Regions from separate parts of the Homo sapiens genome. Here region 2 is linked to region 1. The links come from fine-mapping of genetic effects on gene expression. A gene starts in region 1. The other region holds a variant in brackets. All regions are shown on one strand. Distances are between the middles of the regions.

Region 1 (2,917 bases):
CTGGTTTCATTGAGGTTGGGTCCTGACACCATCACCTGCTGGAGGTCCTATAGGCCAGAGAAGAGGGGTTGCTTCAGGAACATAGGGGCTGCAGAAGCATTTTGGAGGTGGGAACAAGTTTGGATTCAAGCATCATAAAGATAGTACACAAGGGAAGTCTGCACAGAATCAAAATGATACGTAAAAAGAATGAAGGGAGTCAGATAAGTCAGGGGAAGGCTACTGGAATGGAGGGTGAGAACCTAGGATTTATAAATTGGATTCCTAAATTGAAACAATTAGAAGAATCAAACAGAAGCACCTGCTCCAGCCCATCATCTTCAGGAAGCTGCCTGGCTTCGCCGTTCCCGTGGATAGGGATCTCCATTGTGGCTGCCTTCCCTAGGATCCCGTCCGTCATGGCTAGGAAAGGTATTGGAGTAAAACTCTCCACCCCAGCACCCTGCAAAGCCCAACACAGAAGTTCTGGACACTGGCCAGCACTCTAGAAGAAGGAGGCCTCCTCTGTCATTTCTTTAAAGGCTGTCCCAGGGTTTGAGTGTCCCAGCGTTTGGCCATCATTCCTTTCTTCAGATATATGTATTTCTCCCCTCCAAAACGCACATTTGAAACAGGCACACCAAAGCACGGTGTCTTCTCACAAGCCCCCAACCTCACCAGGACTCTGGTGATTATTTCTACACTCATTCAGCAGACATTTAGTGAGTGCCTACTATGTGTCAGGCACTATTTGTGACAATGAAAATACAACAGTGAAGAGGGAAAGTCTGCTCTCTTAGAACTTATCTCCATGCAGGCGTGTTTATGCTGAGGAGATGAACCCTTTCCAGGGCTCAGGTCTTCACCCCCCTATTCAGGTTTGTTCTCCATTGCTTGGCCTTTCACATTCCTTTAGCGTTTCTTCCCCCTTCCTTCAGGGGGTCTCCCCTCCTCCGTCTCATACACCTCGTCTTCCTCGGGCCCTCCCCACCAGGCCTTAGTTAGATCAGTGGGTGTATGTTCCCAGTCTCTGGTAAAAGCCTCTCTCTCCCAGGATATCGGTGACCCTTCCACAGTCAGTTATGTCTCCCAGGTGTGTGAGTCCCCGCCCCCACCCCCATACACCTGGACATCAGGTGTGTCCTCATCCTTCCCCGGGGCTCGGGGCATCTTGCCCTCTGGACAGGTTTGTGCGTTCAACTTCCCGTCGCCCAAGCATGTTCCTCTCACCTCGGGCCGGGCCGCTCTTCCCCTCAGGGCGCCAGGCCCGGGCCGCGCGGGGACCTCGGGCTCCAGTTCCCGTCGCGATCCTAGCAGCAGGTCAGGGACTCGGCGGAAATGACGTCCTCTCCGGGCAGAAGAAGCCGGCCACGTCGCAGATTATAAGGGCGGAGCTGACGTCGCAGCCAGGGCAGGGCGATACTCGAGCTAGCTCTCGAGATCAGCGAGAGGTTACTTCCGGGGCGGCACCGAGAAGCTGAAACGGAAGTGGCGTACGGCATGCGCCGGTGGCGTGATGGAGCGGCAGCAGCAGCAGCAACAGCAACTGCGAAACGTAAGTGAGAACTAAGTCGTTTCGAGGCCAGACGTTCAGCTCGCATTCCTGCACACATCGCGGGAACCCCACAGGGCCAGGGATTTGAGGGCTGGAAACTTCGGGCTATGGCGCGCGGGCCTGGGAAACTTTGGGCGGCGCGACCTTGACTAGAAGTGTGGGGCCCTTATCGCTGAGTTTGTGGTCCCCCTTTTCTCTCAGCTGCGTGACTTCCTGTTGGTCTACAATCGGATGACAGAACTCTGCTTCCAGCGCTGTGTGCCCAGCTTGCACCACCGAGCTCTGGACGCTGAGGAGGTGGGGAACTGTGTAGGGAGGTTACGCTGCAAGAAGAGTTTAGCGGTAGACTGCTTCCCTCCTCACCCCACTTCCCGTACCTCTGGCCCTGGCCTTCCCACGACCCTCACCCCTAGGCTGGGCATGGGGAAGAAAGGAGGCGGACCCGACAGGGCACCTTTATCCTCCACTTAAACCCTATCTTCCTTCTAGGAGGCCTGTCTGCACAGCTGTGCTGGGAAGCTGATCCATTCCAACCACCGCCTCATGGCCGCTTACGTGCAGCTCATGCCTGCCCTGGTACAGCGCCGCATCGCAGACTACGAGGCTGCCTCGGCTGTGCCAGGCGTTGCTGCTGAACAGCCTGGGGTCTCTCCATCAGGCAGCTAGCCATACCCAACCCCAGGAAGGAAGGCCTTGGATGGACCCTCAGATTGAAGGACCCGGTGGACCTTGGGGTTGGTGAATCCTAAACAGAGAGAATTCGAGGTTGCCTGAAAGCTGGGTGTCCTTGCTCCTTTTCCTGGAGCCAATATACCCAGTTTTTACTCAGTTTGATTTATATTCTGGGCAAGGAAGCTTTGCCTACTTTATTGGCACAATCCGTTGTTCTGTCGTTTAGTGCATATCTGCTGGCTTCAGCCCTGGCAGCTGAGAAATTGTTTTCTATATGTAGAAGGAAAACCTGAGCATTTGCAGGCATCTGGTTAAAGCAGGGTCTGTGTGTACAATTTTAAAACGGGTAATATGTCATGCTCTTAGTTCATCTTCACAACAAAACTATGAGTAAGCGGTATTAGCCTCACTTAACAGATGAGGAAGCAAGATTCCAGAAAGTACCAGAAGGTCATTTTATACAACAGGAGATTGGTTCCTGCCCAGATGACAGAAAATGGGAGCTCTGTCTAGTTGTCCTTAAGTCTGACTGACTTCAGTGGCTCATAACCGTGAGCCAAGTATTTGTTGGTTCATAACTGTTGTTTTGTGAACTATGTCTTACATGTCTAGAGTTCTGCTGGATCTAGGGAAAGGAGGAGCTATCGAAGTACAACGGATCAAAAAACCACAGGGCTTTTGGGCACTGCCTCCTTGGGAAGTTAGTGGCCA
Region 2 (2,917 bases), 27 kb after region 1:
TCAGGTGCAAGCAAGATGGAGTTTGAGATGTTTTGGAAACAGCTGAATCTTTGGTTCTGGGACTCAGGAAGATACTGATTTCCCCCATCTACTCTCTAGTATCATGTCATACTCCAGTTGATTCTGAGCCCTTTGAGGACAAGGACTATGTAGAAGTCATCTTTATGTCCCCATCTCTGACCACAATACTTGAACAGAGGGACAACTTGATAAACGGTTTAACTAAGTTCCATAAAGTCAGGGACTGGATTTTTCTTGAACACTGCTGTATCCTCAGTGGCTTACACACTGCTTGCCTTAATAAGCATTTGTAGAATGAGTGAATATCCTCCAAAGGATATTCAGCAAAATGCACCTATATCCCACATTAAATGCAATACATATGGATTGATATAATAGGTGTATCTAGTTACAGTAGGCCAGTTAGCATAATGCTATGTTTAGATACATTTAATAAAGCATTTATTTTTATTTTTCAGTTTTCTTTATATAACTCAGAGCTAGCAATATTTTTAAGCATTACATATATATTTGGAGTATATTTTATACTCCAAAGGAGTAGTGGCCATTGGGAATGAGAAGAGTACTGTATAACTCCTGGCCCTACACAGAAACAGCAGCCTCCATTAAGTAGGTCATAGGAAAAGGAAATATCTCTTGGGAAGAGCCAGGGCTCAGTTAACATAGGCAGCTACACTGTGGGAAGCTAAATGGCCCACTGATTAAAGGAGGGGGCATGAGTCAGGTAACTTTGGTTTTAAATCCTGTATTCTTCCCTTAACTGTCTTGGGCAAAGCTTTAACTTCTCTTTGTTTCAGTTTTCCTATCTGTAATTTGGGGATATGAGTACTATACTTAAGAAACTTTAGTAACTTTGTCAAAAACAAAACAAGGTTTTTGTATGACTTGACTTAGTGTGTCCATTCTGGTATCTATCTAAAAGTTCTTAAGTCACTTGCTTAACAATGTTTTCTAGAAAGTTGAGAGAGATGAGAGATAGAGGAGAGCTATTTTATCTCTTAGACATTATAGGACTTAGGATACAGCTTTTAAATTGCTAAAAATATATGTAATGCTTAAAAATATTGCTAGCTCTGAGTTATATAAAGAAAACTGAAAAATAAAAATTAATAAATGCTTTATTAAATGTATCTAAACATAGCATTATGCTAACTGGCCTACTGTAACTAGATACACCTATTATATCAATCTATATATATTGCATTTAATGTGGGATATAGGTGCATTTTGCTGAAGTAAGAGAACCCAAGACCAACTAAGATTTTAAGATGGCTCTGAAGGTACTTGTCTAGTACATTAGGTTGCAATTTTCCTCTTTATTTGCCTGTTTCGAATTTTCTAGTCTTCCTCTGCTTTTCTCCAATCTCAGTTTTTCCATCAAATAACATTCTGATT[G/A]TCTCTGCATGTCTTTCAGTACCCAAGTATATGTGTATTTTATCATGTCTAGAATGAGGATTTTTCACATTTCATCATCTCTAAAATTGTGATGCATCTTACAAATTGATGGAATATCTTATTAGAAGCATTTTTATCTTAGCATTTCATAAGATAATGCTGCAGCTTACGGTGGACAGTGTCTTAGATCTGATGGGATGTAAGATATCTGCATTTGAAGATATGAACTTCTTGGAGCTGGCTAGGTGCCTTTTTCTTTCTTCCCATCTACCTTTGGCTTCGGTTTCTTCTTAATAATATTTGTTTCATCTTTCTAGTTTAAAAATCATTCTGCTCTCTTTGCCCCTTTTTCTCCTTTCTTCTGCCTGCCTTCCTGTTCCCCTTTTTCATCTCCTGTATCCTCCTTTGGTCTCTTAAAGTCTGACCACGTTCCCAGGGCCTTCACTGATCAGAGCTCTTTTTTTAAAGGCCTTACAGCCTGATGGTGGTGCCACCCGACAAGGTGAATCCCGAGCACTACATCTTCTCTCCCTTTGGGATCTTGCATGTACATCCTGTGGAAGGTAGCGAGACGATGACACTGGGTACCTGGCACCATCACTGTGTTCTCTGGCAGCAGCTCCAGTTCATTCCATTCTTTAAGTATTGCCTCTTACGCAAGTCCTTTACCTGGTAGGTAATGACGGATATGTGATTTGGGGGGAAATGGATGACAGCAACAGTATATTATCACTGACCTCTAATTTCTAGTTGGAAGAAGAATGTGAGATTACAGGGGCTGCATCGACTCCAGAAATTCCTAGAGAATCATCTGCTCTTGGCTGTGCCCCACTTTGGAGCTGGGCTACTCCATATTAGCAGGTGAGGTATTAAAAACACAACTTCATTGAGTTTTTAAAAATTAGTTTTACTAAAGGTAATAGTATGTTTGTTGTAGAAAATCTGAAAGATACAAAAAAGCACTAAGAAAAAACCTTTAATCCTACCAACCACTATGAACATTTTGTTGCATATCTTTCTAGTCTTTTTTCTATCACATACACAAAATGTGATCATACCTTACATACTGTTAAATAACCAGTTTTTTCTTTGAACATATATTCTGAACTAGATTATATTCTATTTCATGAATAGAATATATTCTCTATGGAGAATATATGCAATATTCTCCAGGTAATTATATATCTTAAACCACTTGCACTCACGTAATTATGTGTAATGTCAGATCTGGGGGTCTAATTCAGTTGTTTGAATCCAAACTCTGTGTTCTTTCCAAGATATTACTTGGATTCTATTTTTCTTTTTTTTGGAAAAGGTTGGTTATTCCTATTTTCAGTATTTCCTTGCTTTCCCTACATGACTCCTCAGCTACTCTTAGGTATATTCTGTGACAGGAGTTGCAAATTCAGTTGCCTAAAGGGCCTAAGCAGGAAGTATTGAAGGAATGCAGTGGTTTAGGTGGAAGACATTAGGGAGCATGGGAACTGCAATCTGGAGACTG

What was found. PIP is the estimated chance that this variant, and not a neighbour inherited with it, causes the effect.
Region 2: its variant is fine-mapped to the expression of TIMM10B in esophagus muscle (GTEx, PIP 0.95).

What each region holds. Positions count from the first base shown.
Region 1 is chr11:6,480,022-6,482,938 of GRCh38, forward strand. It overlaps TIMM10B (translocase of inner mitochondrial membrane 10B), which reads left to right and starts at 1,480. Exons shown (of 3, transcript NM_012192.4): 1 at 1,480-1,534; 2 at 1,736-1,831; 3 at 2,024-2,917. The coding sequence starts at 1,496. The coding sequence ends at 2,200. ARFIP2 (ARF interacting protein 2) reads right to left here and starts at 1,310. Exons shown (of 8, transcript NM_001376558.2): 1 at 1,210-1,310; 2 at 302-442; 3 at 1-47. The coding sequence starts at 400. RefSeq lists enhancers at 903-2,102, 939-1,058, 1,539-1,588.
Region 2 is chr11:6,506,996-6,509,912 of GRCh38, forward strand. It overlaps DNHD1 (dynein heavy chain domain 1), which reads left to right. Exons shown (of 43, transcript NM_144666.3): 5 at 1,885-2,088; 6 at 2,167-2,277. Among named protein-coding and RNA genes, the nearest start is that of DNHD1, 11 kb to the left of the region's middle. The variant G/A (reference allele first, on the strand shown) is at 1,417.